Homo sapiens: one gene and its partner. The protein of the gene in region 1 purifies or fractionates together with the protein of each later gene. This does not show direct contact. Each region holds a gene or a part of one and is shown in the gene's direction. Other genes may lie near its edges.

Region 1 (3,500 bases):
TCCAGCACACACCTGCCTCATTAAAATGTGCTTTGAGTATATAATAGCTAATAAGGATTGGGTAGAATTTGAATAGCTGAATAAACATTTTTTTGCACAAGTGTACGTTTGTTATATTTAAGGAATAAGTTAACAGATAACAGATGCTATTGCTGTTAGGAGCCCTATCACAATACCTTTGATATCTTTGGGAATCCAGTTTTTTAATAATATAATAAATTCCCCTTTGTTCTCTGGGAATCTAACCATAGCCCTTAAAGGATATTACCTTGGTGAACTGTCAGGAAGTAGTGTCCCCACAACCTGGCAGTGTAAAACTCAGCCAAAGTAGCTGTAACTGTGAACTATCTAAAGGAGTCCACATGTGTGGCTTTCACAATGGTGCTCTTTCAAAGGCGGGAACCCTTTTTAAAATTGTACCTGTTTTCTATTTGATTGACTTTCCTAGGCTATTTCTAGATTGTGTGAAGACAAAGACTTGTGTAGAGCCGCTATGAGAAGGTCTTTCAGTGCTGATAACTTCATTGGTATTCAGCGCTCTAAAGCCATCCTCTCTTAAAAGGAGAAATGAGGGGTTATAACGTCATGGGACCTTCATCTACAAAGACTGGAGAAATACCACCTTTCCTGCTCAAAAACCAGCAAAATTAGTGTTTTCATCAAAAGGAAAGATCTCAAATTCAAGAGACTCATGGACAACAAGGATTATACTCCACAGGAAAGAATGGGACCTTGTCAATGCAACAAAACACTCTTCTGTCCTTTTTAATGTAAACAGAGTTACAAAAACCACTCCAAAGTGAAGGCTCCCATCCTACACACAGATATTTGCTTACTGTGTGGGCCGATAGCTGTGAACTATGTAAGGTTTTTTAAACAATAGTTTAAATTTTTAGACTTTAAAGACACTAACCATATAACTTTTATGTTTCTTCCAGTTTCTCTCCCTCCCCCCGCATTTTGCTGCATATGCCTTTAAAATCAATGCAGTATTACCATTAAAACATGGGACTCTAACTAAAGCCACTTAGGAGCAGACAGCAGCGTTGTTAGGTACTGAAGGGTTCTTCCTCCCTACTGTTACCATTGAAGCTGCTAGTCATTGGCAATCATTTTAAACCAAAAAGCTGCTGGATAACATTTGTCATTCATATTCTTTGCAAGCATTACTTTAGCATTTTAGCATGTTTGGGGTCATAAACAGAGGAAGTATCAGTTATTGATATCTACTTCTATTGGAGTCCATGTTGCATTTCTTGTGAACTATAAATGGTGCTTCTCATTTTCTGATAATTTTTCTCTTGCTAAATAAATGTATTAAAAGATATTTTCATAATGCCAACCAACATGGTGGTTCAGTGACGATGAGAAAAAGTGAAGCAGTTTTAAGCTTGAATATAGTTTGGGCCCTCCAAGGCACTGCAGCATGAGTATAAATGCTATAAACCTTTAAAAAACATGATTTGAAAGTTTTTTGTTTTGTTTTGTTTGTTTTTAAAGAGATGGGGGTCTTACTGCGTTGTCCAGGCTGGAGTGCAGTGGCTTTTCACAGGTGCAATCATTGTGCACTCACTGCAGCCTAGAACTTCCTGGTCTCAAGCCATCCTCTAGCCTCAGCCACACAAGTAGCTGGGACTACAAGTGCAACTGGCACCTGTCTCCTGAATATTAAGCTTTTAATTTTTTGTTTCGGTCACTCTTGATAGCAGACATTGACTGAAACAAAAAATTAAAAGCTTTATATTCAAAATTTGCAAAATGAAGCTGGGTGTGGTGGTGCACGCCTATAGTCCCAGCTACTTGGGAGGCTGAGGCTGGAGGATTGCTTGAGGTCAAGTATTGGAGGCTGCAGTGTACCATGATGGTGCCTATAGGAATAGCTACTACACTCCAACCTGGACAACGTTATCAAGACCCCATCTCTTAGAAAAATGCAAAATTAAATGCAAAAGAAATGGGCTGGGCATAGTGATTCATGCCTGTAATCTCAGTACCCTGGGAGGCTGAGGTGGAAGGATTGCTTGAGTGCAGGAGTTCAAGACCAGTCTAGGCAACATAGTGAGACCCTGCCTGTAAAAAAAAATAATAAAAATAGTTGGATATGGTGGCATGTGTCTGTAGTCCCAGCCACTCTGGAGGCTAAGGTGGGAGGATCAGTAGAGCCCAGGAGGTCAAGGCTGCAGTGGGCCATGATCATGTCACTGCTCTCCAACCTGGGCGACATCCAGACCCTGTCTCAAAGAAAAAAGCAGAAGAAAAATGTTCAGACAAGGTTTTGTAAAGGTTTGTAGCATTTATATTTCTACAAGTATCAAAGCTTAAAATTACACTGAACTTTTGGAATACCTTGTATCTCCATAAAATGCCCTCTTTTTAAAAGTAGTTACCCGCAGAGCTGTGCTCTATATGCTTTGATTACCGCAGTTTCTTTAAAGGAAGATTTTGAAGAGCAGTGTTAATTAACATGTAATAAAAGGAATTGGACCCTAATTATAGAAGGTGATATGAACAGCTGTTTTATCATCCTACATGCTACCAAGCTGTAGGTGTCCCATTAAGTCCTGCTATTTAAGAAATACTTACATAACCCTTAGGAACTCTTCAGGCTTTAAAAGGCAAGGAGCAAATAATTTTAGGAGACCGATAATGTCACCTAAATTTGAAATACTAAGAAGAGGTTAGTGTTCTCAACTATGTGAAATCTGTTTCTCCTACTTTCTCAAATCTAATCCTAGGAATCTTGCTTATAAACAAAGCATTTCTGGGACAGGAGTACTTCCTCTATTATAGCAATGCTTCACATCATATTGTGCTGCAGTTTCCATCATTTTTAAAGGACAGAGACATAAATGATAAATAATGGTATACAAATATTACAATCTACCACCTCAAAAAAACAAATATTGTTTATGGAATTCAGAGTTTGGAGATTCAAGTATTGATTGCAGTTTTATTTTGAAAAGAATGCTACAATTTATGTGGTTTTTATTTCTCATGTTTATATTAAAAGCTAATAAACTCTATTTTAATTAAAATATGGCTAGTGTGTTTGTAACACTTCTATCCACATAGTGTTACATCTCTGCCCAGCCTAGTTTTAAGTCAATCCTGATATGTCTTAAAGCATTTTCAAACCAACCATAAGTTGATTTGATCCATGCCTCTAGTTAAGATGTAGTGATCCATTTCTTTTGCATATGCTCTTTTCAACCTGAAGATAATTTATTACACTTAAAATCACTGACCACAATACTTAATGGCATAGTGCATTAGATGGCATCTTGAATAGTTGGTTATCGTGTCTGAGAGGGAAAAGCACATTAGAATATAAAATTAAGCAAAATGTATCAAAGAGAAAGGAATTAAAGGAATAGCGTAGAATTAGAACAAGAGGTATTTGAGGTTTTCAGACAAACAGGAAAGAGAATGGAAAGACAGGAACTAGAATTTGTGTTGCTGTTGAGAGGATGTCTTAAGCCACATAATTTGACTTTAATGTG
Region 2 (3,500 bases), on another chromosome or scaffold:
TTCCCATTTTACACAAAAGACACTTTTCACCAGAGTCCCTGATCCCATAGAACAGAGCTTGGCAAGTGTTTTCTGGGAAGGGCTAGACAGTAGTTTTGCTGGGCTCTGTGGCCCACGTGGCCTCTGGTTTGGTTGCTTGGTTTCTCCTGTTGTTCTTCCAGAGCCGGAGACCCTTCCTTAGGAATGGGCTTGGCTGTGTTCCAATAAAACTTTATTTACAAACACAGAAGGTGGGCCGGACTGTGGATTCTTGGCCTCTGCCGTGACCCATAACATCCCTCCTGGAGGAGGGGTTCTGGGGGGCTGTGTTGGAAGGGGCACCCTCCGGGCTCGGCACCGGGGCCAGACTAAGGGGTGCTCTCACGGGCAGGCAGTCTGGTGGGCAGAACTGGAAAGAAAGGGCTCCTGACTCTGCCTGGGCTCTGGGGGAGGTCACATGGGAGGTGCTTGGAGTGGGGCTGGGGCAGCTGTGGGAAGGAAGCAGCATTAGCCAAGAGCTATGAGACCCCCAGTCGATTGTGGGGACCGGGGCTCCGTGGGCTTTCACCATGCTGCCACCCCGAGGTCACCAGGGCCTTGACCCAGATGCTCCCAGACCAGGCCGGAGACTTTGCATGATTTCAGTGATGAGGGCCCGGCTGTTGGAGAGCCCGTCTGTGCCTGTGTGCTGGGGTTGGTGTCTGGCACCAGGGACCTTTGGGACCTTTAGCCAAGCCAGAGCTGTCCTTCCCCAGTCCTAGCTTGGCAGAGCTGCGTCTGCACTGTTTTCCCTTGTGGCGTTGTGGTGTCGGCCCGTTTGGTGCGCAGCTCAGCATCCGTTCAGACATGTGGCTGCCATCCTGTTCCTGATGAGGCAAATGGCTGTGGCCTGTTTGTTTCCGTGACAGGTCCCCTGGGGACCAGGGGGTGCGGCTGTCTCTCTGTCTGGGAGGTTTACAGCCTGGCAGGAGCCCTGCAGCCCCAGAAGGCTGAGGGCTGGGTGCTCCTGAGAACGGGCAGGCCTAGGGCATGGGGTGGGTCTCCTTGGTCCCTGGCACGTGGTTTTTCTTCTGGGACCCCTCCTCCCTGTGCAGGCCGGGCTCCCCTGGGGGCCCACACTGAGGGTCTGCAGTGTGGCACAGCAGCTGGGACCTGGGCCCCATCGCTGTGAGACCCTCTGGTGACTGGCATCCTGGCGAGATGGAGATGTCTTTGTCAGCTGCTGGGTGGGGGCCCTGGGCAGGGGAGCAGAAGGAAGGTGGGGATGGCAGGTGCGGGCGGCTGGACTGGGCTCTGCTGGGAGGGGGAGCAGGAGGAGGGTGGGGATGGCAGGTGCGGGCGGCTGGACTGGGCTCTGCTGGGAGGGGGAGCAGGAGGAGGGTGGGGATGGCAGGTGTGGGCGGCTGGACTAGACTCTGCTGGGAGGGGAGCAGGAGGAGGGTGGGGATGGCAGGTGCAGGCGGCTGGACTGGGCTCTGCTGGGAGGGGGAGCAGGAGGAGGGTGGGGATGGCAGGTGCGGGCGGCTGGACTAGACTCTGCTGGGAGGGGAGCAGGAGGAGGGTGGGGATGGCAGGTGCGGGCAGCTGGACTGGGCTCTGCTGGGAGGGGAGCAGGAGGAGGTGGGGACGGCAGGTGCGGGAGGCTGGACTGGGCTTTGCGGGAGCAGGAGGAAGGTGGGGATGGCAGGTGCGGGCGGCTGGACTGGGCTCTGCTGGGAGGACCGTGGTTCTGCCTAGGCCAGAGCCCTGCAGTGTCCGCCGTGGTCCCTGCGGTGGGAGGCGTGGTGAGCAGTGCCAGCTTCCTGCTTGTGGAATCCGTCTTTCCTCATAGCTCCATCCTGCTCTGTTAAGCATTAAATTGAAGAGGTGGGGGTCGTCCCTTCTGGTCCAGGCCCGTCTACTCCGCAGCCCTCCTGGGAGGCGTCCAGGGCTTTGGGGCCTGGTCCTGCCCCCTACTTCATTTTGAGAGCGTGGCAAGGGCCCCAGCCCGTTCTGTCCTGGGCGCGGTGGCCACCACCCCTGCTTCTCTTGGCTGGCTTTGGCCTGTTGTCCCCGTTGTGTGTCAGGGGCTCCTGCCCGTGGATCCGGGCCTTCTCCCTGTGGCCTTCTCTGAGCTGCTGCTGCTGCAGGCTGGAGAGCAGGAACTTGAAGCCCTGGCTGGCTGTTCCTTCTCCCTCCTGCGAAGTGGGAGCTGCTGTGCTGGACTCTGCTGCTTTGGGGCTTCATGGGGAACATGACGCTGTCTGTCCTGCTGGTGGCAGCGTGACCTGTTGCAAACCTCAGCCTGTCCCACTCAGGACCCGGTGCCCGTAGGCCCCTTGGCCCACCTGCTTCCTGCTGTTCTACCAGTGGGAGCTGAGGGGTGCTGATCTGGGGATCCCCCTCGTCTGGGCCCCACCGTGTGCCTGGGCCCCCGTGTGCCTTGGAGCACCAGCCAACAAGCAGTGCCCACGGGGCTGTGGGTCAAAGGCCACCCAGACCTGAGGGGTGCAGAGGCTTGCTTGTCCAGGCCTCCCGCCCAGGCTGGGGGCCAGGTCCGCTGGGGCCCTGCCCTGCTTCCCTGCTCAGGGCTCTGCCCGTGGCTCTGCCCGTGGCTGTCATTCTCCCACCGTGCCCACTGATCCTGGGAGGCCCAGGAGGTGGTGCGATCCCTGTTTTTTGGTGCAGAAACTCGGGAGCCACAAAGGGGTGACCTGACACACTCATGGTCACCAGCCTGGGGCTCCCTGAGGAAGGTGAGCCAGTCTGGGTCTTTGCTGTAAACCACGTATGGTCACGTCCCTGTCTGTCCTGTCGAGAGGGGGAAGCATCCCAGACCACCTGGTGAACATGGGCGCCCTTCCTGGAGGCGTCCTCCCCTCCTCGGGCCTGTTTCTCGTGGGGCGGTGCAGCCCCGCACGTCCCGTGCTGTGGCTCTGACTGCTGGCCTTGTCCTGCAGGTGGCCTGTGAGTACGGCATGGTGCACGTGGTCTCCCAGGCCGGGGGCCCCGAAGGCAAAGACTACTGCATCCTCTACAACCCGCAGTGGGCCCATCTTCCGCACGACCTCAGCAAGGCAGTGAGTACCCGCTGGCCGGGCGCCGCTGCGGAGGAGAATGCGGGGGCCCCGGGGCTCTAGAGACACATCCGGCTGGGGTTGCAGGAAAGATCCAGAGGCGAGAGGCAGGCCCTGACCAGGTCTGGGGGACTCTTAGCTGGCCCCCAGTTCCCCTGGGCCTCCCCAACCCTGGTCATCAATGCAAGCTGTCCATGCGGCCTTGGGGTGCAGATCCAGAGGCACCGGCCGAGCTCCATGTGGTAGATAAGGGTCTCTACTGCTCCATGCCGGGGACCCTATCCAGTGGGCCCAGACAGAGGGGTCCTCAGAGGAGTAACAGCAGAGGGCACAGTGGGGCCCCAGGGACGAGACCTGTTCCTTTCACCGTCTTCCTGACTGGGGCACTAACACCTGCTGCTGGATGAGTCCCTCCCTCAGAGGCCCCACCTCCTTTCCCACTTAGTCCTCATGCCCCGCCTCCTT

The links. Proteins that work in one complex are often made in the same cells at the same time.
Region 2: the proteins of CCNYL1 (region 1) and SPPL2B purify together in Homo sapiens (affinity purification with mass spectrometry; 2 studies listed by BioGRID and IntAct, with this or other methods). This does not show direct contact.

The regions. Positions count from the first base shown.
Region 1 is NC_000002.12:207,753,140-207,756,639, forward strand, and holds the end of CCNYL1 (cyclin-Y-like protein 1), read left to right. Parts: intron 1-448; coding exon 449-559; 3' UTR 560-3,035; downstream 3,036-3,500. UniProt on the Homo sapiens protein: Key regulator of Wnt signaling implicated in various biological processes including male fertility, embryonic neurogenesis and cortex development. Activates the cyclin-dependent kinase CDK16, and promotes sperm maturation.
Region 2 is NC_000019.10:2,331,684-2,335,183, forward strand, and holds part of SPPL2B (signal peptide peptidase-like 2B isoform 2 precursor), read left to right. Parts: intron 1-2,918; coding exon 2,919-3,038; intron 3,039-3,500. UniProt on the Homo sapiens protein: Intramembrane-cleaving aspartic protease (I-CLiP) that cleaves type II membrane signal peptides in the hydrophobic plane of the membrane. Functions in ITM2B and TNF processing.